Linked DNA regions of Homo sapiens: all the other regions are linked to region 3. Evidence: fine-mapped expression QTL. A gene starts in region 3. Each other region holds a variant in brackets. All regions are shown on one strand. Distances are between the middles of the regions.

The links. PIP is the estimated chance that this variant, and not a neighbour inherited with it, causes the effect. A credible set is the group of variants that fine-mapping cannot tell apart.
Region 1: its variant is the best candidate, but not a certain one, in a credible set for the expression of USP39 in monocytes (CEDAR, PIP 0.50).
Region 2: its variant is the best candidate, but not a certain one, in a credible set for the expression of USP39 in neutrophils (CEDAR, PIP 0.56).

What each region holds. Positions count from the first base shown.
Region 1 is chr2:85,654,205-85,663,264 of GRCh38, reverse strand. SFTPB (surfactant protein B) reads left to right here. Exons shown (of 11, transcript NM_000542.5): 9 at 1,156-1,236; 10 at 1,730-1,811; 11 at 3,583-5,951. The coding sequence ends at 1,792. Among named protein-coding and RNA genes, the nearest start is that of SFTPB, 9.5 kb to the left of the region's middle. The variant G/AG (reference allele first, on the strand shown) is at 2,821.
Region 2 is chr2:85,642,498-85,651,324 of GRCh38, reverse strand. It overlaps USP39 (ubiquitin specific peptidase 39), which reads right to left. Exons shown (of 13, transcript NM_006590.4): 11 at 6,242-6,377; 12 at 3,309-3,395; 13 at 2,042-2,564. The coding sequence ends at 2,517. Among named protein-coding and RNA genes, the nearest start is that of SFTPB, 21 kb to the left of the region's middle. The variant AG/G (reference allele first, on the strand shown) is at 4,441.
Region 3 is chr2:85,610,432-85,620,711 of GRCh38, reverse strand. USP39 (ubiquitin specific peptidase 39) reads right to left here and starts at 4,526. Exons shown (of 13, transcript NM_006590.4): 1 at 4,249-4,526; 2 at 1,423-1,492. The coding sequence starts at 4,516. C2orf68 (chromosome 2 open reading frame 68) reads left to right here and starts at 8,646. Exons shown (of 4, transcript NM_001013649.4): 1 at 8,646-8,834; 2 at 8,926-9,044. The coding sequence starts at 8,728. RefSeq lists enhancers at 4,733-4,782, 4,813-4,862, 8,305-8,534 and silencers at 8,146-8,318, 8,805-8,874, 8,494-8,875.

The DNA.
Region 1 (9,060 bases), 43 kb before region 3:
AGACACCTAGGATGGGCCAGAATGGAGCACAGACAGGCAGACAGGATGTGGGGCAGACAATGGTGGGACTGTAAGTTAGGGCAGAGCCTGCTAAAGGTTAGGAGTCGCCTCTGGACAAAGGGCTGTGGGCTCCAGAGGACCAGCAGGCCCTCTTCACGGGCTGAGTGAGCACCAGGCAAGCCTTCAGAGGCCTGGTTATCTACCAGGAGATGAGTAATGCTAGGGCCAGTTCAAGCCAGGAAAGGGACTAGCCTTCTCTCCAGGGTCCTGATCCCTTTACTGCCCCCACACTCCTCAAGGTGTGACTCACTCAGGACAAACCCATTGGCAAAAGGAGAGGGCTGGACTTGAAGGTCCTAGGGCCCTTGCCAATACTCAGTCAATGACAGGAAATTCCCTTTTTTTTTTTTTTTTTTTTTTTTTTGAGATGGAGTTTTGCTCTTGTTGCCCAGGCTGGAGTGCAATGGCACAATCTTGGCTCACTGCAACCTCTGCCTCCGGGTTCAGGCGATTCTCCTGCCTCAGCCTCTTGAGTAGCTGGGATTACAGGCATGTGCTACCAGGCCCGGCTAATTTTTGTATTTTTAGTAGAGACAAGGTTTCACCATATTGGTCAGGCTGGTCTCGAACCCCTGACCTGAAGTGATCTGCCCGCCTTGGCCTCCCAAAGTGCTGGGATTACAGGCATAAGCCACTGCACCCGGACAGGAAATTCCCTTCTTAAAGCGAGATCCTGTCCTGAGGAAAGCCAGCTGATGCTCTTCCCAGGAGGCAGCTGTCCACACTGTGCTCCCTGCTCAGCAACTCCCAAGCCTCCCGACTGCCCATCACATCTGGTCTCAAGGACCAGATGAACGTTAAGTTTCCTTCTAGAACTGAAATGGAGGTGGAGGGAGGGGAGGGTGGTGGCTGAGATTCCACCCCTCTGCCTGAGTCCTCCGTCTCCAGTGTCGCCTGCTTTTCTGATGGAAGTCCTCCATTTCAGCTGGCTCCAGTTTGTTAAGGGTTTCAACTGCAGCCAGAGGTGTTCCGTGAGGGCTGATGGAGGAGTCGGGAGGGAGCCCTAGAGTGATCCAGAGATGTGGAGAGGCCAGGACCACACGACAGGAGAGTCCTGCAAAGGGACCCTCCACAGCTGTGTGTCTCCTTCCTCAGTGCAAGCAATTTGTGGAGCAGCACACGCCCCAGCTGCTGACCCTGGTGCCCAGGGGCTGGGATGCCCACACCACCTGCCAGGTACACCCACCCCTCCCAGTTGGTCCTAGGACTTCCCTTGGCTCCCAGAGCCCCCACCCTTTGGGCCCGTGATCCTCAGAGGCCTCACTCCCCTGGGTCCAAGGTGGTCCCAGGTGCACGGGCCAGGGACTGGGAGGCACCCCTCTCTGTTTCAGTGTAAAAAATCATGAGAGCATGGAAAAGGGGGATGGGAAGGGAGGGATGGCCTGAGGAGTGCGGCTGGATGTCCATTATAGGATGGGGCTGTGTTCCCTGGCCAGTGTGTGCTGGTGGGGTGGGGGTACAAAGTGGGTGTTCTGGAGTGAACATCTCACCTCCTCAGGCTCTAAACCCTAAGGCCTGTGGCTCAGGGAGTGGCCCGAGGGGTCTACAGAGTCACACTGGTAGCACCCACTAGGCGGGAGGTGGAGTGAGTGCTGTTCTTTCCCGGAAGAGCTGGGTGTGGGGAGCTGAGGGGGCCCAGGCCTCAGCCCTGGTGCTGTCCCTGTGACAGGCCCTCGGGGTGTGTGGGACCATGTCCAGCCCTCTCCAGTGTATCCACAGCCCCGACCTTTGATGAGAACTCAGCTGTCCAGGTGAGTCCAGGCCCCCAGTTGCGGGGAGGTAAGGGGGCAGGTCCTGACCATCAGGGCATGGGAGGCCCTTCTGCTCCCCAAGCAGGAAGAGGCGGCCACTCCTGCCGGCTGCTCCATCCTCCCTCTCACCGCACAGCTGGAGGCTCCTGAGGGCTTCTGGCTGGCCATCAGGAAAACACCCTTTCCGGACCCCGAGCACTGCCCCGCCCAGAACCCCAGTCACTGAGTGCCCAACCCCCAGCTTCCCCCCCAACCCCCCGCCCTGCCCTGTCCCAGGCCTCCCTCTCAGAGCTTGCCCCAGGGACTCTCTGGCCCTCAGGGTTCAATGTATTCTGACCAAGGCCAAGCTTTCCTGGGGCTCAGGGAAAATCACACTTTGCTACCCGAAGCTGTATCCCCTCAGATGCCAGGAAGGCCGTGATCATCTGACTCCACCCTCCTGAGACACATTCTCTCCCTGACTGTCCTGTTCTAAGTCAGCGGAGCACCTTAGGATGGAGGGGTGGAGGCGAGGCCAGATGCAGCCTCTGTGAACAGGTGCCTGGAGGCTGGGAAATGACCCTGAGAGGGCAGGACACAGCAACCGTGGGCTTAAGGTGACCTTGAGAGCAAGCTTGGCCCACTTTACAATTCTGTTCAGAGCCAGCCCCTAACATGGTGGTCATTTATTCATTTGTTCCCTCATTTTAAAAAATGTAAGGCCAGGCATGGTGGCTCACGCCGGTAATCCCAGCACTTTGGGAGGCCGAGGCAGGCAGATCACCTGAGGTCAGGAGTTCGAGACTAGCCTGGCCAACATGGCGAAACCCTGTCTCTACTAAAAATATTTTTTAAAAATTAGCTGAGCATGGTGGCAGGTGCCTGTAATCCCAGCTACTCAGGACGCTTAGGCAGGAGAATCACTTGAACCTGGGAGGCGAAGGTTGCGGTGTGCCGAGATCGTGCCACTGCACTCTAGCCTAGGCAACAGAGCACAACTCTGTCTCAGGAAAAAAAAAAAAAAAAAAAA[G/AG]GTATTTCTTTGCTGGGCGCAGTGGCTCACACCTGTAATCCCAGCACTTTGGGAGACCGAGGCGAGTGGATCACTTGAGGTCAGGAGTTCAAGACCAGCCTTACCAACATGATGAAACCCCGTATCTACTAAAAAAAAAAAAAAAAAAAAAAAAAATTAGCCAGATGTGGTGGCACACACCTGTAATCCCAGCTACTTGGGAGGCTGAGGAGGAGAATTGCTTGAACCTGGGAGGCGGAGATTGCAGCGAGCCAAGATTGCGCCTCTGCACTCCAGCCTGGGTGACAGAGTGAGACTCCGTCTCAAAAAAAAAAAAAAAAAAGTAGTGGGTGCCTGTGGCCAGGCCACATCCTAGGGTAGGGGCTATGGCTGAGCCCTGCCCTCCTGGAGCTCACAGCCAAGTCCACTTCTTCCATCTGAGGCGGGGAAGCCAGCCCTGTTCCTGAAACCCTGCATCACAAGCCCCTGTGGGAGGCAGTGGGGAGGGGAGGTCCTCCCCCACTCAGACCTGACCCACAGGGACCAGTTTAATGTGTCCTTGCCCCAGTGATGACAGCTGGGGATCTGGGGGTGGGGAGTCACCCAGGACCCGGGCAGTCGCCTTTCCCCAGCTCCTAGGGCTCCCGGCCTTCCCTGCTGAAACAGCAAGACCAGTGGGTTGGCGTGGGAGGCCTGGGCTTCAAACCACCTCTGCTATCACCTGGCTGTGGGTCCCCAGGCAGGACATACACACAGTCCCTCTCTGGCCCTCATCCTCCTCAGCTGCAAAGGAAAAGCCAAGTGAGACGGGCTCTGGGACCATGGTGACCAGGCTCTTCCCCTGCTCCCTGGCCCTCGCCAGCTGCCAGGCTGAAAAGAAGCCTCAGCTCCCACACCGCCCTCCTCACCGCCCTTCCTCGGCAGTCACTTCCACTGGTGGACCACGGGCCCCCAGCCCTGTGTCGGCCTTGTCTGTCTCAGCTCAACCACAGTCTGACACCAGAGCCCACTTCCATCCTCTCTGGTGTGAGGCACAGCGAGGGCAGCATCTGGAGGAGCTCTGCAGCCTCCACACCTACCACGACCTCCCAGGGCTGGGCTCAGGAAAAACCAGCCACTGCTTTACAGGACAGGGGGTTGAAGCTGAGCCCCGCCTCACACCCACCCCCATGCACTCAAAGATTGGATTTTACAGCTACTTGCAATTCAAAATTCAGAAGAATAAAAAATGGGAACATACAGAACTCTAAAAGATAGACATCAGAAATTGTTAAGTTAAGCTTTTTCAAAAAATCAGCAATTCCCCAGCGTAGTCAAGGGTGGACACTGCACGCTCTGGCATGATGGGATGGCGACCGGGCAAGCTTTCTTCCTCGAGATGCTCTGCTGCTTGAGAGCTATTGCTTTGTTAAGATATAAAAAGGGGTTTCTTTTTGTCTTTCTGTAAGGTGGACTTCCAGCTTTTGATTGAAAGTCCTAGGGTGATTCTATTTCTGCTGTGATTTATCTGCTGAAAGCTCAGCTGGGGTTGTGCAAGCTAGGGACCCATTCCTGTGTAATACAATGTCTGCACCAATGCTAATAAAGTCCTATTCTCTTTTATGAGAAAGAAAAAGACACCGTCCTTTAAAGTGCTGCAGTATGGCCAGACGTGGTGGCTCACACCTGCAATCCCAGCACCTTAGGAGGCCGAGGCAGGAGGATCCTTGAGGTCAGGAGTTCGAGACCAGCCTCGCCAACATGGTGAAACCCCATTTCTACTAAAAATACAAAAAATTAGCCAAGTGTGGTGGCATATGCCTGTAATCCCAACTACTCAGAAGGCCGAGGCAGGAGAATTACTTGAACGCAGGAGAATCACTGCAGCCCAGGAGGCAGAGGTTGCAGTGAGCCGAGATTGCACCACTGCACTCCAGCCTGGGTGACAGAGCAAGACTCCATCTCAGTAAATAAATAAATAAATAAAAAGCGCTGCAGTAGCTGTGGCCTCACCCTGAAGTCAGCGGGCCCAGGCCTACCTCACTCTCTCCCTTGGCAGAGAAGCAGACGTCCATAGCTCCTCTCCCTCACAAGCGCTCCCAGCCTGCCCTCCAGCTGCTGCTCTCCCCTCCCAGTCTCTACTCACTGGGATGAGGTTAGGTCATGAGGACACCAAAAACCTAAAAATAAACAAAAAGCCAAACAAGCCTTAGCTTTTCTTAAAGACTGAAATGCCTGGAAGTGTCCCTTTATTTATAAAATAACTTTTGTCATATTTCTTATACATGTTTCTTGTAAGAAATTCAGAAACTACAGACAAAGAGAGTGGAAATTACCCACTGTCAGGCCTCTGAGCCCAAGCTAAGCCATCATATCCCCTGTGCCCTGCACGTATACACCCAGATGGCCTGAAGCAACTGAAGATCCACAAAAGAAGTGAAAATAGCCAGTTCCTGCCTTAACTGATGACATTCCACCATTGTGATTTGTTCCTGCCCCACCCTAACTGATCAATTGACCTTGTGACAATACACCTTCCCCACCCTTGAGAAGGTGCTTTGTAATATTCTCCCCACCCACCCCACGCCCGCACCCCCGCACCCTTAAGAAGGTATTTTGTAATATTCTCTCCGCCATTGAGAATGTGCTTTGTAAGATCCACCCCCTGCCCACAAAAAATTGCTCCTAACTCCACCGCCTATCCCAAACCTACAAGAACTAATGATAATCCCACCACCCTTTGCTGACTCTTTTTGGACTCAGCCCACCTGCACCCAGGTGATTAAAAAGCTTTATTGTTCACACAAAGCCTGTTTGGTAGTCTCTTCACAGGGAAGCATGTGACACCCACAATCCCACCTAGCCCAGGAGAGAGCTACGGCAGGGTGTGTGTTTTGACACTGAGCTTGGGGCTTTTTCCATCTTCTCCCCACAGCCTCTGGCTCCACACCTCCACCGTTCAAGCGCCAGAAAGAGCTGTCTATGCAGCCTGCTCTTGGGCCTGGGGATGAGACACACAATTCATTGGCTCCTGGATTTTAAGTAGACATTTGTAAATCTATAGCTAACTACTGTCCTTAAAGCCATTGTTTCCATTACAAAATCCAACTCTCTGAGAGAAAAGGGTGTTTTAAATTTAAAAAAATAAAAACAAAAAAGTTTGATTGAGACAATGAAGAGCCAATGTTTGAAGAACTGGAGGCATTAATAGTTTATCCCAAAAATATGAGTGGGAATGAGTGCCTGATAATGAAAAAGGCGGCTTCATTCAAAAGGAGGTCAAGAATTGGCAGACTTTGGGAGGCTGAGGTGAGTGAATCACTTGAGCCCAGGAGTTCAAGACCAGACTGGGCAACGTGGCAAAACACCATCTCTATAAAAAATATAAAAATTTGGCTGGGCATGGTGGCTCACACCTGTAATCCTAGCACTTTTGGAGGCTGAGGTGGGTGGATCACTTGAGGTTAGGAGTTCCAGACCAGCCTAACATGGTGAAACCACATATCTACTAAAAAAAATACAAAATTAGCTGGATGTGGTAGTGCATGCCTGTTATCCCAGCTACTTGGAAGGCTGAGACAGGAGAATTGCTTGAACCCAGGAGGCAGAGGCTGCAGTGAGCCAGGATTGCGCCACTGCACTCCAGCCTGGGCAACAAGAGCAAAACTCTGTCTAAAAGAAAAAAAAAAAAGATACAAACATTAGCTGGCCATGGTGGTGTGTGTCTGTGGTCCCAGCTATTCAGGAGGCTGAGGTGGGAGGATCGCCTGAATCCAGGTCAAGGCTGCAGTGAGCCGTGATGATGCCACTGCACTCCACCCTGGGTGACACAGAGAGATCCTATTTCAAAAACAAATAAATAAATAATTTTAAAAAAGAGTTGACTAGCTGGTAGGAGGACAGAATTGGCAGGAAGTGGCTACACTTGAGACTCCTAGGGTCCCTGAGAAGTGTCCAACATCCTGCACCTCTGCCCTTAGGAAGTTGGGGGAAGAGAAGTCCCAGGAGGGATTATAGCCCAAGAGGAGGGGACTTATTCTTCACTTTCCAGGGTGTGGGCTTCTAAGAGAAGCCTGCCTCTCACAGGACATCAGAAAGGGTGAGGACGCTAGCCTGAGGGATGGAGCTAGGCAGCTGGCCTGAGGTCTGCCTCACAGAGTGTTCCCAGTGTGATGTGGTTGCAGAAGAGCAACCTCAACCCACAGACCGAGAGGCAGTCAGAATTGGCTCTGGACAAGATGGTGCACCCGTAAGAGCCCACGGTTGGGGATGAATCTGTGACAGATTTAGTGGATCTTGAGATGAGCAGAAATCAGATGTGTAGCAGTGATGGCACAAGAAGATGATGATCAGGCAAGACGAGAGACACTCCAGAGAGACCTGGATGGCCAGGGAATGCTTAGTCCCCAGTGCCTCTCCTCACCGCAGGGCAATCTGTAAATCATTCCCAGGGAAAGGGGAAAGAGGATTCAGTGGTTAGTCAGCCAAGAGAGGCTGAGTATTAAGAAGGGAATGAGTTACTCCGAAATGGAAATAATATGTTTTGAGGGCTCATGAGCCAAAATGAGTTCAGTTATAGAGAAATAAAGATAATTACATTATGTCCCCCTAATGAATAACTGAAATTTTAAATCCACGACATAATCATTATTAACATGTTATTATCTATAATTCCAAAGCTTTCTGTGCACATATACAAAAACAGATACAGCAGATCTACAAAATGGAAACATCCTATACATGCTGCTTTGTAACCTGCACTGTTCATTTAACAATAACCTTTTCAGGTCAATAAATGTAAGTATCTACTATTATTGCTAATTGCCACATGACAGCTCTGTCTCCCAGGCTAGAGTGCAGTGGTGCGATCACTCTGGGGTTTAAGCAATCCTCCTGCCTCTGCCTCCCTAAGTGCTGGGACTACAGGCGTCAGATACCATGGCTGGCCCTTACTTTTTTTTTTTTTTTTTTTTGAGACAAGAGTCTCACTCTGTCATCCAGGCTGGATTGCAGTGGCGTGATCTCAGCTCACTGCAAGCTCCGCATCCCAGGTTCATGCCATTCTCCTGCCTCAGCCTCCTGAGTAGCTGGGACTACAGGAGCCCGCCACCACGCCCAGCTAATTTTTTTTTTTTTTTTTTTTTGTATTTTTACTAGACACGGGGTTTCACTGTGTTAGCCAAGATGGTCTTGATCTCCTGAACTCGTGATCCACCCGCCTCAGCCTCCCAAAGTGCTGGGATTACAGGCGTGAGCCACCGCGCACGGCCGGCCCTTTCTTTTTTAAGCAACTATTATCAACGATTTGCAAAAAATAAAAATCCTCGCACTTACATCTTTGTTTGTCTGTCTTCTTAGAATCAATTCCAAGACATGAAATTTGGGGGACACCTTTACTTTTAACAGAGGCTGGATTATCAATCTGGGCCTCTGTGCCAGCCGTACCAACTTCTATCCCAAAAGAAAACAAGTGCCTCTTTCCACTCTCACCAAACTGGGGTATTAACAATCTTTCAAACTTTGCTAATCCAAAAATATATATATATATTTATATATACAGGCTGGAGGGCAGTGGCACAATCTCGGCTCACTGCAGCCTCTGCCTCCCAGGTTCAAGCAATTCTCTTGCCTCAGCCTCCGGAGTAGCTGAGATTACAGGAACGTGCTACCATGCCTGGCTAATTTTTGCATTTTTAGTAGAGACGGGGTTTCACCATGTTGTCCAGGCTGGCCTCAAACTCCTGACCTCAGATGATCCACCAGTCTTGGCCTCCCAAAGTGCTGGGATTACAGGTGTGAGCCACTGCATCTGGCCTATCCAAAATATTTGTTTTGTTTTGTTTTGGTTTGGTTTGGTTCCTTTTTTTTTTTTCTGCTAATCCAAAATATTTTTAAATGATGTCTCATGGTCGTTCTAATTTGCATTTCTTTAGTTACCAAATAAACACCTTTTCACATGTTTATTGGCCATTTATATTTCATCTTTTGTGAAATGCCTACTTGGGTTTTTTGCCCAATTTTCTGTTTAGGTTTCTTTTTCTTATTGTTTTACGAGTAAAAATAAACTAGGTATATTCATTTATTTACTGTCCTATACATTGCAAATTTTTCTCTATCATATATCTGGAGTATTTTTTCCACATCTATCTTTTTCTCGTGATTTCTGGCTGTGGGGTCATGCTAAGAAAACATGAATTGAATTTCACTTCTTCCCCATGTGTGGTTCAAACTCTGGCCAGACCTTGAGGTCTCCAAAAGAGGAAGGGCATGCTGGGATCAGCT
Region 2 (8,827 bases), 31 kb before region 3:
TATCTGTTATTCCTACATTCTTTACTTTACTTGTTACTAACTAATCCCGTTTCTACAAACCCGTTGTAGTTAATAATTATTGAAATTAAACTTTCCCTGAACAGATTATTATACATGAATTTCTCTAACTGGATAGTGTAATCTTCACCTCAAAAATAGCCAAGTTTGAAAGAGAAACTCATGGCAGGGCACAGTGGCTCATGCCTGTAATCCCAACACTTTGGGAGGCCAAGGTCAGCAGATCACCTGAGGTCAGGAGTTCAAGACCAGCCTGACCAACATGGTGAAACCCCATCTCTACTAAAAATACAAAAATTAGCCGGGTGTGGGGCGCACACCTGTAGTCCCACCTACTCGGAAGGCTGTGGCAGGAGAATCACTCGAGCCTGAGAGGCAGAGGTCGGCAGTGAGCTGAGATCACACCACTGCACTCCAGCCTGGACAAGAGTGAGACTCCATCTCAAAAAAAAAAAAAGGGAAACTCACAAGCTCAATTTTTTTTCTTTTTTGTAATGACAAGGTCTTGCTCTGTTGCCCAGGCTGGAGTGCAGTGGTGCAATCATGGTTCACTGCAGCCTCAAATCCTGCGCTCAAAGGACCTTCCTGCCTCAGCCTCCCAGATAGGTGGAACTACAGGCACACACCACCATGCCCGGCTAATAGGGTCTTGCTATGTTGGCCAGGCTGGTCTTGAACTCCTGGCCACAAACAATTCTTCCACCTCAGCCTCCCGAAGTGTTAGGATTACAGGCAGGAGCCACCACACCTGGCAAGCTCAGTTCTAAACAATGTTAAGTTTGAGTTTACTTTAAAACACCCAAAAATAGGGCTGGGCACCATGGCTCACGCCTGTAATCCCAACACTTTGGGAGGCCGAGGCGGGTGGATCACTTGAGGTCAGGAGTTCGAGACCAGCCTGGCCAACATGATGAAACCCCGTCTCTACTAAAAATACAAAAATTAGCTGGGCACGGTGGTGGTCGCCTATAATCCCAGCTATTCAGGAGGCTGAGGCAGGAGAATCACTTGAACCCAGGAGGCAGAGGTTGCAGTGAGCTGAGATCATGCCACTGCACTCTAGCCTGGGCGACAGAGCAAGACTCCATCTCTAAAATAAAAATTAAAATTAAAAAATAAAATAAAATAAATAAAATAAAATAAAATAAAAAAATTAGCCGGAAATCACTTGACCCTGGGAGGTGGAGGTTGCAGTGAGCCAAGATTGTGCCACTGCATTCCAGCCTGGGCAACAGAGCGAAGTTCAAGAGTTTAGAAAAATCTGGGATTAAGATGTGTTTATGAGTCATTTCCATAAAAATGCATAGCTGAAATGGCCTAGGGAAAAAGTAAACAGCAAGAAGAGTGACGCTAGGACTGAATCTTGAGAAAACCCAAATTTAATGGCTGGATAGAAGAGATAAGCCTCCTAAGGAAATACTGGAGCTTCCAGAGAGGTAGAGGAAAGTGAGGACAAGGTTGTGACCAGGTAAAGGGTGGCACCACAGGAGTGCGGGGCTCCTGTCTCCATTCAACAGAACTTGCTGGGGCTGACTGGCTGCCTCCAGCTGCTTCCCATATCTTTGGACCTGCCACAGTGCTCATGCCAAGGCCACCCTTCTTCTAGGCTGCTAGAGCCCACGACTGAGCTTGATGGGAGCCATTTCTGCTGAATTGTCTGACGGAATCTTTGCCCTGGGGCTCCACACTGGACTGGCTGAGACCACCTCAGAATTGCACTGTAGTGAGAAGCGCTTCCTATTTCCTTTTTTTCCTCTTCCCTTACTCATTCCTGCACTGCAGCTGGAAACTGCCCACCTCTGGCCCTCTAGTTAAGCACAATAATAATGTATCCCCTTGACTCAGGTATTTTTTTACTTAGAAACAAATGCATCCTAACTGACACACCACCCACAAGCTGACAGGAAAGGGCGAGCGTGATGTGCACCAGATGTCAGACTGTAGGGTAGAGAGTTTGTGAAGATTAAAAAGGAAAATATTTTCCTCAGCCAACCACCAAAGGAAAAGATATAAAACAAGAGGCTGGTTTAAAAACAGGAGACTATTTAATCCATCTAAAAATACAAATCAGGAAATGGGGGGAACCATAGGAAAATCCTCCACCTCTAACAGAGCGAAGTTACTGGCTTTCTGCTTGCTCCAAGAATCCCAAGGCTTGATGTTTGGAAGGAATTATCTGTTCTTCAACTACTCCCAGATACTCAAGACATAAGTTACACACATCTGGAGAAGGGTTCTGCCCTGCTGAAGCTAGATGGGAGCTCAATGCATGGGAGAAAGGAGCATCAATCTAGAAAAAAATGATCAAAGAACAGCTGAGTGACAGTGTGGGGCCATCCCAGGCAAGTGGGCTCTTGGTGCTCTGGTGTAGCCAGAACCCATACAAGCTGGGCTGGCCTAGGAAGCCCACCAGCCAGCCTGTGTTCAGCTACAGCTTCTGTGTTCTTATTTACCATCATCAGCCACAGCCCTTGGGAGCAAAGCCCTAGACGCCTCCTTCAAGCCCCCTGCTGGTTGGTTTCATCATTATCTCGCCTCTTCCAAATCTGTAAGAAATGAAAACACAAACTGAAGTCTAGGAGGCATTCAGTCAACAGACACTTATCAAATACCTATTCTGTGCCAGGCCATGGACAACTTGTCACCCCATTTACAAATCTGCTATACCCCATTTGGAAATCTGCTACAGTGGCTACAGCCACTGAGGAGAAAAAAGTTATCTCTAGAAGGAGAGGTATCACTTTCTTCTTACAAAGCTATGGCTTTTGTCTCAATCTTCCTTCTTTTGCCAGGTACTAGGGCAGTTACATAAAGAGAAGACAGAGATGCTCTGTGCTCCATGGGTCAATCCAATGGAGAGGACAGACAGGCAAAGCGATATGGCCGGCACTAAAACAAACGTCAAGTAGAAAGCGCTGTGGGGTCACAAAGCTGCCTGGGGCTCTGGGGAGCACTTCGTGGTCGACTTCTAGCCAGCCTCCCTGATGAGTCTAGGTTCTTCCTCCTCGAAACCAGACCGCACACTTCTGCAAAACTAACCTGGCCATAATCGCAACTTTCTTTGCTCACTCATACATTTTCTACACTTCCTTATACTTCTTTTCTGAAAATCTCTGCTTGACTTTCAGGGCCATACATTCTGCCCCCAACTCACTACTAAGTACTTCCCAATAGGTACCTGGCCCTCCAACCAAGGTCCTAACTCTATCCCTCTTCCTGCCTTGGCCCACTCCTCTCACTGGCCCCATACGCCACCTATTTGTGGCTCACTAAGCCTGTGGCCAACCCACCTGAATGTAAGCCTCTGACAGTGTGATCATCTGGGGAAGGATGTCAGTCACCTGGAGGTCTTGTAATTCATACCATTTGCCTGTCCCCTGCAGAAAGTATGAAGAGCTGGGTTAGTCTGCTCTCTAAAACCAAAAGGGTGTAGAAGGAAAGGATCATAGCCAAGACTAGAAAAATTAGAAGAACAGCCACTAGACATCATCCAGCAACAGTCATAAAGAAGAGGGTACATGACTTCTTCTGGCCATGATTCAATTAATAGGACTTTTGGTGTGTCAATCATGGCAAACTCAATTCCTGTTGGGAATTTTTTTAAAGCACTGTTTTTTGTTTGTTGTTTTTTTGTTTTTTTTTTTTTTTGAGACAGGGTCTCACTCTGTCACCCAGGCTGGACTACAGTGGTGTAATCACAGCTCACTGCAGCCTTGACCCTCTGGATTCAAGCGATCCTCCCCTCAGCCTCCCAGGTAGCTGGAACTACAGGTGTGTGCCACTAAAACTGGCTAATTTTTTTTTTAATAGCAATGGGGTCCCACTGTGTTGCCCAGGCTAACTCCTGGTCTCAAAAGATCCTCCCGCCTCAGCCTCCTAAAGTGCTAGGATTATGGGTATGAGCCACTGCGCCTGGCCCCTTGAAGTACAATGGAGTCTGAAACACTTCTGTACATCTTTTTAAAAGGAATTTAGTGGACACTAAAGATGAGAAAAGAGGAAGCCATCTAATCATCACCTATGATGTCTCCTTCCTGCTCAGAAATGACAGACTAGACATTCTCACTTATGAGGTACACAGTGTCAACCACTGAGAGAACCTAAATATGGACATTCCTGGCTGGGCACAGGGGCTTACGCCTGTAATCCCAGCATTTTGGGAGGCCGAGGTGGGCAGATCACTTGAGGTAAGGAGTTTGAGACCAGCCTGGCCAACACAGTAAAACCCCGTCTCTACCAAAAATACAAAAATTAGCCAGGCCTGGTGGCAGGTGCCTGTAGGTCCCAGCTACTTGGGAGGCTGAGGCAGGAGAATCACTTGAACCCAGGAGGTGGAGGTTGCAGTGAGCCAAGATCATGCCACTGCATTCCATCCTGGGTGATAGGGTGAGACTCTGTCTTAAAAAAAAAAAAAAAAAAAAA[AG/G]CAACAGGTCATCAAGAAAAGGTGTCCTTGGTGGACACTGTCTATCACACTAACCTGATTCCTTTGGCCTAAGAAACCAGTGCTACAAATACAGCAAAACGTATCTCACTTCATGCTTCCATGAACAAGGAAAAAATGTTTCTAGATTAAGGCAGAGGCACCTCTGGCCGCCCACCTGTCTTATCCAACCAAAGTTCTAAGAAATACCAAAGACCATTATTGTAGAATATAAATATTCCAGATCCTCTGGATATTACAATAGTTGAGAATATAGGAAACATAAGGAAAGCTCAGGATCACATAAGTAAGTTCCCATTCCTGCTTCAAGGACGAGTTAAGAACATGGGCTTTGAAGCAGAGTACCTGGGTCAAATCCTAATTCTACTGACTTGAGGTCAATTACTGAAACTCTGAGCCTAGGTCTCCTCCTCTGTAAAAAAGATGATACTGACATCTGTCTTGGAGGTGTGTTTTAATGAAAGAAATGAGATTAATGTACATTAAGTAACTGGCGTACTGCCTAACCACAATAAAGCACTTGATAAACAGAAGCTAGTTAAGATTAAACCCACAGTTCCAGAAGAGGCTAATCAAATGAGAACAATTTATGCTAATAATCTATGTGATATCAAATATATCTCAAGTACATGTTTTATCTGTTTTCAACTTGAGACAAATCCACAACATTTTTAAGATGAAAGGGAGCCTCTAAACCAGTGCTTCGCAAACTTTAATTTCTTACAAATCAGAGGGTCACGTTAAAATCCAGGTTCTGATGTGGTAGGTTTGAGGGGACTGAGAGTCTGCATTTCTAACAAGCTGATTTCTAACAAGACTGATGCTGATGTTATTGGTCCAAGGATGCATCCCACTTTGGATGGTAAGGCTCTAGTCTAGGGCAGAGGTTCTCAACCTTGGCTGCATATCAGGGTCTCTCAGGGAACTTCAAAACATCAAATGCCAGCCAGGCATGGTGGCTCATACCTGTAATCCCAGCAGTTTCAGAAGCTGAGGCGGGAGGATTGCTTGAGACCAGCATGAGCATCATAGCACAACCCCATCTCAATTAACTTGAAAAATAGAAAAGACATCAAACAGAAAAGACATCCACCTCCAGACAATCTAACAGAGAGCCTTTAACCTTAATGCTGACTGATGTTTAGGGTCAGATAATTCTTTGTAACACGGGCTGTCCTTCGTGTTGTAAAATATATACCAACATCCCTGGCCTCTGCCCCAGCTGAAAACTACTATTATAACCGGCCTGGTGTGGTGCCAGGCATTGGGATTTTAAAAAGCTCCCGGTTGGCGCGGTGGCTCACGCCTGTAATCCCAACACTTTGGGAGGCCGAGGTGGGTGGATCACAAGGTCAGGAGTTCAAGACTGGCCTGGCCAAGATCGTAAAACCCCGTCTCTACTAAAAATACAAAAATTAGCCGGGCGTGGTGATGGGCGCCTGTAATCCCATAATCCCAGCTATTCGGGAGGCTGAGGCAGAGAACTGCTTGAACCCAGGAGGCGGAGGTTGCAGTGAGCCAAGATCACGCCACTGCACTCCAGCCTGGGCTACAGAGCGAGACCCTGTCTCAAAAAAAAAAAAAAAAAGCTCCCAAGGTGAGTCCAATGTGTAGCCAAAATTGAGAACCACTGCCTTAAACTAACTACTGACAGCACTATTACTTGCAGAGTCCCAAAGCCAAGGCCAAGCAAGGACACACTGAAGGGAGCTGCCCTCTGAGATGCCAAAGAAACACCTGTTTTTGCCACTCTGTGCCATGAGACGGTCAGCAGCCACTCACATGATGAAGCACGTGGATCCGGTAGGAGCCCTCGGAGGGCTTGCCGTCATGCACGATGTTGGCAATGAGGTCATAGGTGGTATTCTTGTGTACTGCTTGTACTTCTTCAGACAAGTATTCTCTCAGATCCACATTTCTGTTAATGGTTAAAATAAAGCCGGAATAATCAGACAAAGGCTGTGAGGTTAAGGAAACTGTCCTACACAAACGGACCACAAAATTGTTCAGCCCTATTTTAGGACCCTTTCTCTGGGTAGGCTTGCAGAGTCAAGAAGGTCCAGGTGCGTTGGAATTCACAAAATATGCCAAAATGAATGACAGGGTTACACAGCTTCCCATATGATTTAAAAAAAAAAAAAAGAATGACAGGCAGTGGCTCATACCTATAATCCCAACACTTTGAGAGGTCAAGGTAGGAGGACTGCTTGAGCCCAGGAGTTCAAGGCCAGCCTGGGCAATGTAGTGAGACCCCTACAAAAAAAAAATTAGCCAGGCATGGTGGTACATGCATGTGGTCCTAGCTACTCAGGAGGCTGAGGTGAGAGGATCACTTGAGCCCAGGAGATTACGGCTAAAGTGAGCCAGGACCACACTATTGCACTCCAGCCTGGGCGACAGTGAGACCCTGTCTCAAAAAACCCCCAAAAGGAAGAAGAACTTTCAAATAGTTAAAAAGGAAAATATATAGACAGTTAACAAGAATATTAAGATTAAATACATAATTTTAGGAAAAATATATCATTTTGGAGTCTACAAATATTTATAAAAACTTACACAATACAAGGTAAAATAAAAAAAAAGACATTGCATCATAAAAGTTGTCTGATGTGCTACCACTCATTACATGAAACAAAACCATGTTATCACTGGAAGAGTTCACAAGAAACAGCTAATGGTGGTCACGTCCAGTTATATATCTCCCTTTGAAGTTAGACTGTGAACATATTAACTGTTCAAAATTACAGAGTTTAAAATGTAAACCATGTGGTAATAAACAAACATACAACTTTGTTGTAATTATTATATGTAGCTTTCTATGTATTGGTGACAGCTATTTGTTTCTACAGACTGACAGTGTCCCATATATGATGCAGTCAGACTGCAATAAATATTCACTGTTAAGAAAATGGAAGCCAGGTGCGGTGGCTCATGCCTGTAATCCCAACACTTTGGGAGGCCGAGGCGGGCAGACTGCCTGAGCTCAGGAGTTCGAAACCAGCCTGGGTAACATCGTGAAACCCTGCCTTTACTAAAGTACAAAAAAAAAAATTAGCTGGGCGTGGCGGCGTGCACCTGTAGTCCCACCTATTCCGGAGGCTGAGGCAGGAGAATTGCTTGAACCCAGGAGGCGAAGGTTGCAGTGAGCCGAGATAACGCCACCGCACTCCAGCCTGGGCAACAGAGCGAGACTCCATCTCCAAAAAAAAAAAAAAAAGGAGATATGAGTCCTGAGTCCATGTGAGCTCTAGTCAGCCAACCTGCCTTCCTGCTACTAAAGGCTGACTTCTCATTTTATTTTCTCTTCAGCCTGAACAAAAGCTGACTAGACTTGTCTGAATGAGTATCAGTGAAGAAGTCTTTTTTTTTTTTGAGACAGAGTCTCGCTCTGTCGCCCAGACTGGAGTGCAATGGCGCTAGCTATCTCAATTCACTGCAAGCTCTGCTTCCTGGGTTCACGCCATTCTCCTGTCTCAGCCTCCCGAGTAGCTGGGACTACAGGCGCCCACCACCATGCCTGGCTAATTTTTTGAATTTTTAGTAGAGACGGGGTTTCACCGTGTTAGCCAGGATGGTCTCGATCTCCTGACCTCGTGATCCGCCCGCCTTGGCCTCCCAAAGGGCTGGGATTACAGGTGTGAGCCACCGTGCCTGGTTTGGAGAAGTCTTTATACTCAAGATTTCATGACTGAACCAAAACTGTCCATGCGGCAAAAGAGAAATACTACGTTTAATCATTTTGTGTTAGTAAATAGGAAAAGGAGCAAACTATTCATTTTTTTTTTTTTTTTAGTAGAGACAAGGTCTTGCTATGTTGTCCAGGCAGGTCTCAAACTCCTGAGCTCAAGCAATTCTCCCACCTCGGCCTCCCAAAGTGATGACATTACAGATGTGAGCCACTGCGCCCAGCCTAAAAGAGCAAACTATACTCATCTCCCAACCACAGCAACAGACCAGTTAAGAGAATGGCTAATTACCTGAAAGTGAAACTTTAAACCTGCCCTCAAAAATCTCTATCTCCAAATAAGCAGAGGGTGCCTAATCACCATAAGTCTGATAACTCTCCGACAAAAACAGGATGTGTTATGAATAAAACATAGGAGAAGACAGGTATGAAAAAGATCCTTTTCAAGAAGTATGGACAATGAAATGATCCAGAATTGTATTACTCGAAGTAATTACAGCACATAAAATAATTAAAGTGCAAGTTTCCAGAATTAGTCACAATTTGATGTTCTCTAAAAGACTGCGTAGTTAAGAAACAATCTTTTTCTCAACTTCTCCGAAGTAAGCTTTCTGAAGGACAAACTTTTATATTGGGCCTACTCTAGGCCCATAAAAGAAACCAATGGGGCAAGGAAATTTCTG
Region 3 (10,280 bases):
CCACAGGACACTGGTTCTAGGACCCCTTCAAATACCAAAATCCACAATGTTCAAGCCCCTTACAGCTGGCCCTTTGTACCTTCAGGTTCCATATCCTGATACTGAGGCTGACTGTAATTCAATTAAATAAAATTTAAAATTCAGTTCTTCAACTGCAGGAGCCACTGAAGCCACAGGTGGCTCATGCCTACCATAATGAACAGCCCTTATAACTTTTTTGGTTTTTTTTTTTTGAGATAGGGTCTCACTTTGTCATCCAGGCTGGAGTACAGTGGCGCAATCTCAGCTCACTGCAGCCTCAACCTCCTAGGTTCAAGCAATCCTCCTGCTTCAGCCCCCCAAGAAGCTGGGACTACAGGAGTGCACCACCACACCTGGCTAATTTTTTTATTTTTTGTAGAGCTGAAGTTTTGCCATGCTGCCCAGGATGCTCAAACTCCTGAGCTCAAGCAATCTGCCTGCCTCAGCCTCCCAAAGTGCTGGGATTACAGGCATGAGCCAGAGCACCCGGCCATAACTTTTTTTTTAAGTTTTTTTAAAAGATGGGTCTCGTTGGCTGGGCGTGGTGGCTCATGCCTGTAATCCCAGCACTTTGGGAGGCCAAGGCAGGTGGATCTCCTGAGTTCAGGAGTTTGAGGTCAGCCTGGCCAACATGATGAAACCCCGTCTCTTCTAAAAAAAATACAAAAATTAGCTGGGCGTGGTGGCGGGCACCTGTAATCCCAGCTACTCAGGAAGCTGAGGCAGGATAATCACTTGAACCTGGAAGGCGAAGGTTGCAGTAAGCCAAGATCGCGCCATTGCACTCCAGCCTGGGGGACAAAAATGAAACTCCATCTCAAAAAAAAAAAGATGGGTCTCATTATGTTGACCAGGCTGGTCTCAAATTTCTGGCCTCAAGGGATCCTCCTGCCTTGGCCTGCCAAAGGGCTGAGTAAAGGCGTGGGCCACCACACCCAGCTCTTACAAGAGTAATTATATTATTGTAAAACATTCCCCTACAATATAGGTTGAAAAACATTCTACATGCCACCTGGGAATCAGAGAAAAGAATGCTATGATGAGGTAAACTACCTCAGCTTTCAAACAAATTTCTGTGTTTTTTTTCTGCTGAATCCCAGGCACCCAAAATAGTATCCAGCACATACTAGATACTCCATAAACATTTCAATGTGCTACTGTTATTTTAGGATACTATGCATCCTGTTATCCCAACATACAAATGCAAAATAAGCTCTTTAACAACATGTGTTCTGACACTTTAAATCAAAGAATAAGGAGTAACATGGCAAGAAGCACAACTCTCTAGACAGGTTCAAAAAAAGTAAAGTTTGTCAATGTGTTGTTCACTGTACAGTCCAAAAACTTTCTGCACAGATTCCATTGTTCTTGTGCTATACTCAGCATCTCTGTCCTACTGACCTGTTAATGGTGTCCAGGTACGGGCAGTGGCGGCTCCTCCGGTCCTCAGAATCCACTCGGCCATTCTTTGCTGAAAGGAAAATCATCACAGGCTTTGAAAATGGGAAACCTATACTCAGGGCCAACTAACAGAACAAAAAAAGAAACAGAAATGGGAAAAACTAATCAAGATGAGTTCCTATTGTTTGGGTGGCAACAATATCGAAAAAAAAGTCCACTAGCCGGGCGCGGTAGCTCATGCCTATAATCCCAGCACTTTGGGAAACCGAGATGGGTGGATCACCTGAGGTCAGGAGTTCAAGACCAGCCTGGCCAACTATGGTGAAACCCCGTCTCTACAAAAAACACAAAAATTAGCCAGGCATGGTGGTGGGTGCCTGTAATCCCAGCTATTCAGGAAGTTGAGGCAGGATAATTGCTTGAACCTGGGAGAAGGCGGTTGCAGTGAGCAGAGATCGTACCGCTGCACTCCAGCCTGGGCGACAAGAGCAAAACTCCCTCTCAAAAAAAAAAGAAAAGAAAAAAGCCCACTAATAGAACAAGCCACAAACTGGGAGAATATATTTGGTATACATAAAATCAACAGAAGATTTGTTTGCATTTTACATAAAGAAATCCCATAAAGCATGAAAAATATGAAATATGTCACAAGCACTAAAATAAACTAATTGTAATACAAATGTACCATATAGTTGTGTGTTTCGTTTTTTTTTTGTTTTTTTTTTTTTGAGACGGAGTCTCGCTCTGTCCCCCAGGCTGGAGTGCAATGGCGCGATCTCAGCTCACAGCAACCTCCGCCTCCCGGATTCAAGCAATTCTCCTGCCTCAGCCTCCCGAGTAGCTGGGACTACAGGCACAAGCCACCACACCCAGCTAATTTTCATACTTTTAGAAGAGACGGGGTTTCACCATGTTGGCCAGGCTGGTCTCGAACTCCTGACCTTGCGATCCACCCTCCTTGGCCTCCCAAAGTGCTGGGATTACAGGCGTGAGCCACTGCGCCCGGCCACAAATGTACTACGTAGTTTAAAGAGTGGCTGGGTGAGTGGCTCATGCCTGTAATCCCAGCACTCTGGGAGGCAGAGGCAGGCGGCTCACCTGAGGTCAGGAGTTCAAGGCCAGCCTGACCAATATAATAAAACCCCATCTCTACTAAAAAATACAAAAATTAGCCGGGCATGGTGGCATGCACGTGTAATCCCAGCCTACTTGGGAGGCTGAGACAGGAGAATTGCTTGAACCTGGGAGGCAGAGGTTGCAGTGAGCTGAGATCGTGCCATTGCACTCCAGCCTGGACAACAAGAGTGAAACTGTCTCAAAAAAAAAAAAAAGAATGTACATGTGTATCTATAAATCTACCACTTGTCAAAAACTTGAGTGGGTCTCAGATCTTACCCTACTCGCAAGCTAACAAGTTAGCCTGTCACAGTTTTATGAATGCTGATGGAAAGCATGTGACTACCTGGCCTGAAATAAAGGACAGTTTATTAGAGCAATGACAGTAGCCGGAATATAGCATTGGTGTCAGTTTTCCAAGTGAATTCCCACAAGGCAAAGTGAGGAGAACCCATGCACACAGTGAGCTGCCTTACAGGAGACGAACCCCGTGCTTAGAGAATCTGAACCATTAACCATTTTTTCAAACGAGGTCTCGCTCTGTTGCCTATCCTAGTCTTGAACTCTACCTCATCCTATAGAGTAGCTGCGATTACAGGTGTGAGCCACCACACCCTGCCCCAAATCTTTTATAAGGGATTGTGCCCTTGTCTCCTCGTTTTGTAGGGAGACACCATTTCTATCTTCCAAGGCTGCTCACTACACGAACATCCTTAACGAGAGTCCAGGAGAAAAGGCAGTCAGGCAATGGTCGCAGTACGTGCACAAACTCAAGAGACTAATGGAAAATTGTCTCCAGACTTTATTCAGCTTAAAAAGTGCTACATAATCCATACTTTAGTAGAGGTGCCTATTGCTCAAGCATTCTGAATATCTTGATTACAGAAATTACAAGACCTTAGATGTAAAAACTGAAGGAAAGCCGTGCACGGTGGCTCACGCCTGTAAACCCAGCACTTTGGGAGGCCGAGGTGAGTGGAACACTTGAGTCCAGGAGTTCGAGACCAGCCTAGGCAACATAGCGAGACTTGCTTCTCTTAAAACGCAAAAAAAAAAAAAAAAATTCTTTTTTAAAATGGAAGGAAGTAACACTTGTAAAATCAGCACTGAGCCCCCACATCGGGCATTCGATAAAGGGAAGCTGCTGTTGTTACGATTTTTGCAGTTAGAAATACCATACGTTTGGCCGGGCACGGTGGTTCACGCCTGTAATCCCAGCACTTTGGGAGGCCGAGGCGGGCGGATCACGAAGTCAGGAGATCGAGACCATCCTGGCTAACACGATGAAACCCCCTTCTCTACTAAAAACACAAAAAATTAGCCGGGCGTGGTGGCGGGAGCGGTGGTGGGCGCCTGTAATCCCAGCTACCTGGGAGGCGGAGGTAGGAGAATCGTTTGAACCGGGGAGGCAGAGGTTGCAGTGAGCCGAGATCGCGCCACTGCACTCCATCCTGGGTGACAGAATGAGACTCCATCTCAAAAAAAAAAAAAAAAAGAAAAAAGAAATACTATACGATTATTGAGAAGGGTACTGTCTTCATCAGAACAAGTCGAACAGCAGAATCGTCGAGTCTGGATCCCTCCTCTTCTCCACCCCAACCCCACCCCTCCCCCAACTCCGGCGCAGTGACCTAGCGGAAGATTAGAGACAAGAAAAAAGGACGCGAAAAAAACAGGCTCTCGCGCCTAGCCCGGCCCGGCCCCGCGCACCTCGCACCTCCCGCTCAGGCTCCGAGTCCTCATCGACCTCGCGCTCCCGCTTCACCCGCACAAACGGGACAACAGAAGCCGGGGCCTCGCGCGCGCTCGCCGGCTCGAACTCCCGCTTCACGCGCACAGGGCTGCCCCGGGAGCTCGCCGCCTCAGGCTCCCGCTCCCGATCTCGCTCCCGCTTGACGCGACCGGAGCTGCCCCGCGACTCAGACTCTCGCTTCCCGCGAGTGGAACCGCGAGACTCCCGCTTAGACCGGCCGGACATCTCCACTACCGGCCGAGTCGTCCAGCGCAGGCGCCAAGCACGCTCGAGCGCGCGGCACAAGGCCAATCAGGAGAGGGGCTGGTAGCGAGCCCCGAACTCTCTACGAGTCGCCACTGGGGACAAATCACGCTGCAGAAAATTTGTGGGCGGTGCTGTTCCTGCACTGGCTTCCTCTCCCCTTAGAACCTTCTGTGGGCCTACTGTCGTTTACAGTTTACTGAGACGGGAACCTTTACTGGCGACAGTTTTCTGGATAAAAGCTGTCAGGCCGGGCGCGGTGGCTTACGCCTGTAATCCCAGCACTTTGGGAGGCCGAGGCGGGTGGATCACCTGAGGTCGGGAGTTCGAGACCAACCTGACCAACATGGAGAAACCCCGTCTCTACTAAAAATACAAAATTAGCCCGGCATTGTGGCGCATGCCTGTAATCCCAGCTACTCGGGAGGCTAAGGCAGGAGAATCGCTTGAACCCAGGAGGCGGAGGTTGCGGTGAGCCGAGATCGCGCCATTGCACTCCAGCCTGGGCAACGAGCGAAACTCCGTCTCAAAAACAAAGAAGCTGTCATTCGGCCCCAGATTTGTGCCTCGAAACCACCACCGTGAGGTCGTTTCCCACAGTCTCCGCGGCTTGGGGGCTGACAATCCTGCACAGGAAAACTAGGCGACATTCCCAAATCATCCCCTTGACAGCCCTAATTCTACTTTTAGAAGGTTCTTGGTACCATGAAAACGCAAATGCCCGGTAAAGGCAGATTTACCATGAAGCTAATAAAGCTCTAACCTCAGGACCTGCCTTGAACTTGTTTGCTTGTTTGAACCGTTCCATTGAGGTATAATTGACATACAACAAACTACATGTTTAAAGTGTGCAATTTAGGCCAGGCGCTGTGGCTCATGCCTATAATACCAGCACTTTGGGAGGCCAAGGCGGGCGGATCACCTGAGGTCAGGACTGGAGACCAGCCTGGCCAATATGGTGAAACCCCATCTCTACTAAAAATACAAAAATTAGCCGGGCGTGGTGGCACGAGCCTGTTAACCCAGCTACTTAGGAGGCTGAGGCAGGAGAATCGCTTGAACCCGGGAGGCGGAGGTTGCAATGAGCCGAGATCGCCCCATTGCACTCCAGCCTGGGCAACCAGAGTGAAACTCTGTCATACCCACACCACACCACACCACACCACACCACACCACACCACACCACACCACACCACACTGTGTGCAATTTACTGAATTCTGACTTGCGGTATATGTCAGAGGCGTTTCAACCAGACCAACTCCATCTTGAGTGAGGGTTAGGAAAATGAGGCTGGGCCTTGACAGGCTGCATTCCCAGGAAGTTAGGTATTCCTAGCCTAGAGATGTCTACAGTTAAGGGAACAGAGAGATAATGTTTACTAAACAGATCCAGACTTGGGAGTGTCCTAATATCCCAATATCTGGAGAATAAAGGCATTCCTAATTTTGCTTTAAAGATAATATTTCTTCTTGCAAAATATAATAATAAAATTAATCCTTTATCACAAACCCTTGTAGCAGAGCACATCTCCCCATGATCTTTTTATCCTATATATAAACAAGCATTGTAGCCATGGTGGATGCGTTCCTCCTTTTACTTTCAGGAACGCCCTATTCTGTCAATGGAGTAGCTGTACTTTCACTACTTTACATTTTATTTTTTTGATACAGAGTCTTGCTCTGTCACCCAGGTTGGAGTGCATTGGTGAGATCTCGGCTCACTGCAACTTCTGCCTCCTGGGTTCAAGTGATTATCCTGCCTCAGACTCCTGAGTAGCTGGGATTACATGCACCTGCCACCATGCCCGGCTAATTTTTGTATTTTTAGTAGGCACAGAGTTTCACCATGTTGGCCAGGCTGGTATGGAAGTGCTGACCTCAAGTGATCCGCCCGCCTCCCCTTCCAAAGTGCAGGGATTACAGGCATAAGCCGCGACACCTGGCTACTTTACTTTCTTAATAAACTTGCTTTTACTTTGCACTGTGGACTCACCCTGAATTCTTTCTTGCACAAGATCCAAGAACCCTCTGCTGGGGTCTGAATAGGGATCCCTTTCCTGTAACATATACACCCATGAAGCCATCACCACAATCAAGAGACGGGATCTGGGCCCAGTACGGTGGCTCACACTTATAATCCCAGCACTTTGGGAGGCCTGAGGCAGGAGGATCACTTGAGGTCAGGAGTTCAAGACTAGCCTTGGCAACATAGAGAGACCCCCCCCATCTCCACAAAAAAATTTTAAAATTAGCTGGGCATGGTGGCATGCTATTCAGGAGGCTGAGGCAGGAGGATCGTTTGGGCCTGAGAGGTGGAGGCTGCAGTGAGCAGTGATTGCACCACTACAATCCAACCTATGCGACAGTGAGATCCTGCCTCAAAAAAATAAAAAAATAAAAAAAAATTTAAAGAATCTACCCAGCCCCAAAGATATCCTCTTCCTCCCAGAGAACCCCCACAAAAATCAACTGATCTCTCGGTCACTATAGATTAGTTTGCACTTCCTAGAGTCTCATATAAATGGAATCATACAGAGTCCCTGGCCTCTTTCACTGGGCATATTTATTTTATGATCCATCCATGTTGTTGAGCTACAGATCTTCCTTTGGATTGCTCAGTAATATTCCATCGTGTGGCTGGACCACCATTGGTCCCTGTTTTTTGTTTTTGTTTTTTGTTTTTTGATTTGGAGGTTGGACTGCAGTGGCTCGATCTCGGCTGACTGCAACCTCCGCCTCCCGGGTTCAAGCGATTCTCCTGCCTCAGCCTCCCAAGTAGCTGGGATTACAAGCACCGGCCATCAAGCCCAGCTAATTTTTTGTATTTTTTTTTAGTAGAGACGGGGTTTCACCATTTTGGCCAGGCTAGTCTCGAACTCCTGACCTCTTGATCTGCCCGCCTGGGCCTCCCAAAGTGCTGGGATTACAGGCGTGAGCCACCACGCCCGGCTCTTTCTTTCTTTTTTAATGTATTTTTTTCTTGTAGAGACGATGTCTCGCTGTGTTGCCCAGGCTGGTCTCAAATTCCTCCCTCCAGCGATACTCCCACTTCGGCATCCCAAAGTTTTGGAATTACAGACATGAGCCACTGCATCCAGCCGTTTGTCCCTGTCCTAATCATGAATTCCTGATTTTGACTTTTGTAAAAGGACTTGAGAATTTTACACGCTGTGACGTGAACCCAGTGGTCAGAAAAAATAGAAAAAAAAAAAAAAGGGGCCGGGCACGGTGGCTCATGCCTGCAATCCCAACACTTTGGGAGGCCGAGGCAGGCGGATCACCTGAGGTCAGGAGTTCGAGACCAGCCTGGCCAACGTGGTGAAACCTTATCTCTACCAAAAATACAAAACTTAGCCGGGCGTGGTGGCACGCGCATGTAGTCCCAGCTACTCGGGAGGCTGAGGCAGGAGAATCGCTTGAACCCGGGAGGCGGAGGTTGCAGTGAGCCGAAATCACGCCAATGCACTCCAGCCTGAGCGACAGAGTGAGACTCCTTCTCAAAAAGAAAAAAAAAAGGAAAAATAAATAAAAAAGAAAATAATACACCCGTAGGTCCCTCAAAAACCCTGGGTCCTCCCGCGGGGACAGTTAAGCCATCGGCGCCGTGAGCAGGAGGCAAGCCGGGCCAGGAGAGCCTTCGCGGCGCCTGCGGCCTGGGCGCCGCTGTTGCCCTGCCTGAGCACTTCAAGGCCTCACAATCCATTTGAGGTAGGTGCTCTAGGTGTTCCCATTTACTAATGAGGAAACTGAGAAGTGGCAGCGTTACACAGTCAGCCAAAGTCACGCAGATGGCGATGGATTGCACAGCATCCTATTACCAGAAAAAAGATGGGAAGGCACCGCCGTAAGCATCGAGTTGTGTTATAGATGATTTGCATTTTTCTGAAGGTTCTGGTATCAGCTGTAAGCCGAAGTCCTTGTTTCCTATTGATATGTTACGAAAAAACAAACAAAAAAAAACAAAAACAAAAGCCCTCCGTCCGGGGGGTGGAAGTCAAGCATACCCTACTCCACCCGACCCGACCAGACCCGAAAACTCCGTGCGCTGCATCGCTTGGCCAGGCCGGGGCCTCCCAGACCGGAAGTCAGGATGCGGGGCCGGAAGCTGAGCAAGGGGCGGCGCGGAGCTCTGTGGGCGGGTGGCTGTTGTTGGGGCCGTCGAGGCGGCGGCGACTCTGCGTCCCCGGCTCCTGATGGAGGCGGGGCCGCATCCCCGGCCGGGGCACTGCTGCAAGCCTGGGGGGCGGCTGGACATGAACCACGGCTTCGTGCACCATATCCGACGGAACCAGATCGCTCGGTACCGCCCCGCCCTGCGCCGCCGCCGCCACCACTCCTGGCCTGGCCTGGCCCGGCCCGACAGTCCCTGACTCCCGCTCGGCTCCCCGCAGGGACGACTATGACAAGAAGGTGAAGCAGGCGGCCAAGGAGAAGGTGAGGAGGCGGCACACGCCCGCGCCGACGCGGCCCCGCAAGCCAGACCTGCAGGTGTACCTGCCGCGACACCGAGGTGAGGCCGCCCGCCCCGCCTGCCTCCAGCCCGCGCGCTCTTCCTGCAACGCACTCCCCTTCTCTATAGGGAAAAACCACTTCTTACTCCTAAGGTTCAGCTCATCTCGTCTCTTTCCGGAACCTCCACCTCAGCGCTCCCAAATCTCCGCTGAATGATTCTCACCAAGAACTGGGACGACTCATAAGCCCCCAGTTAAGCATCGCTGTCAGAGTATCGGGGAGCCAGCAAGAAGTTTATCTGCCGGTTTGCCCCACCGTGCTGTATTTTAGTAAGGTGCTCCGCTACCTAGCAAAGAGAAAGTCTGGCACAGCGATGAGCGACCAGCACATAATTGCGGAATGAACCCAGTAAATGGCCTTTCCCCAGCTTCTCTGCTACCTAGAGATCACACTGGTTAATATATGACGGTCAATTTTTGTTAAGCATTATTACTTTTTTTAAAATGTTTTTATTTTATTTTTGAGACTAGGTCTCTGTCGCCCAGGCTGGAGTGCAATGGTGCGATCTGGGCTTACTGCAGCCTTAGCCTCCCGAGTACCTGGGACCACAGGCGTGTGCCACCACACCGGTTAATTTTGGTATTTCTTGTAGAGAAGGGGTTTCCCCGGCTGGGCGCGGTGGCTCTCGCCTGTAATCCCAGCACTTTGGGAGGCCGAGGCGGGCGGATCACGAGGTCAGGAGATCGAGACCATCCTGGCTAACATGGTGAAACCCCCGTCTCTACTAAAAATACAAAAAATTAGCCGGGCGTGGTGGTGGGCGCCTGTAGTCCCAGCTACTCGGGAGGCTGAGGCAGGAGAATGGCGTGAACCCGGGAGGCGGAGCTTGCAGTGAGCCGAGATCGCGCCACTGCACTCCAGCCTGGGCAACACAGCAAGACTCGGTCTCAAAAAAAAAAAAAAAAGAGAGAGAGAGAAGGGGTTTCTCCACGTTGTCCAGGCTGATCTCGAACTCCTGAGCTCAGGTGATCTGCCCGCATCGGCCTCCCAAAGTGCTGGGATTATAGGTGTGTGCCACTACCTTTGTTAGGCATTAGTGAAAGTGCTTTTAGATCTTACGTATATTAATTCATTGAGTCTTTATACAACCTCATAAGAAAGCTTCTGTCTGTTTCACAGTCAGGAAACAGGCACAGAGAGGTTAAACAACTTGCCCAAGATCTCAGCTAGTAAATGGCAGAGCCTGGATTTGAACCCAGGCAGAGCTCTATCCACCCTTCTGCTTTCCAGTACT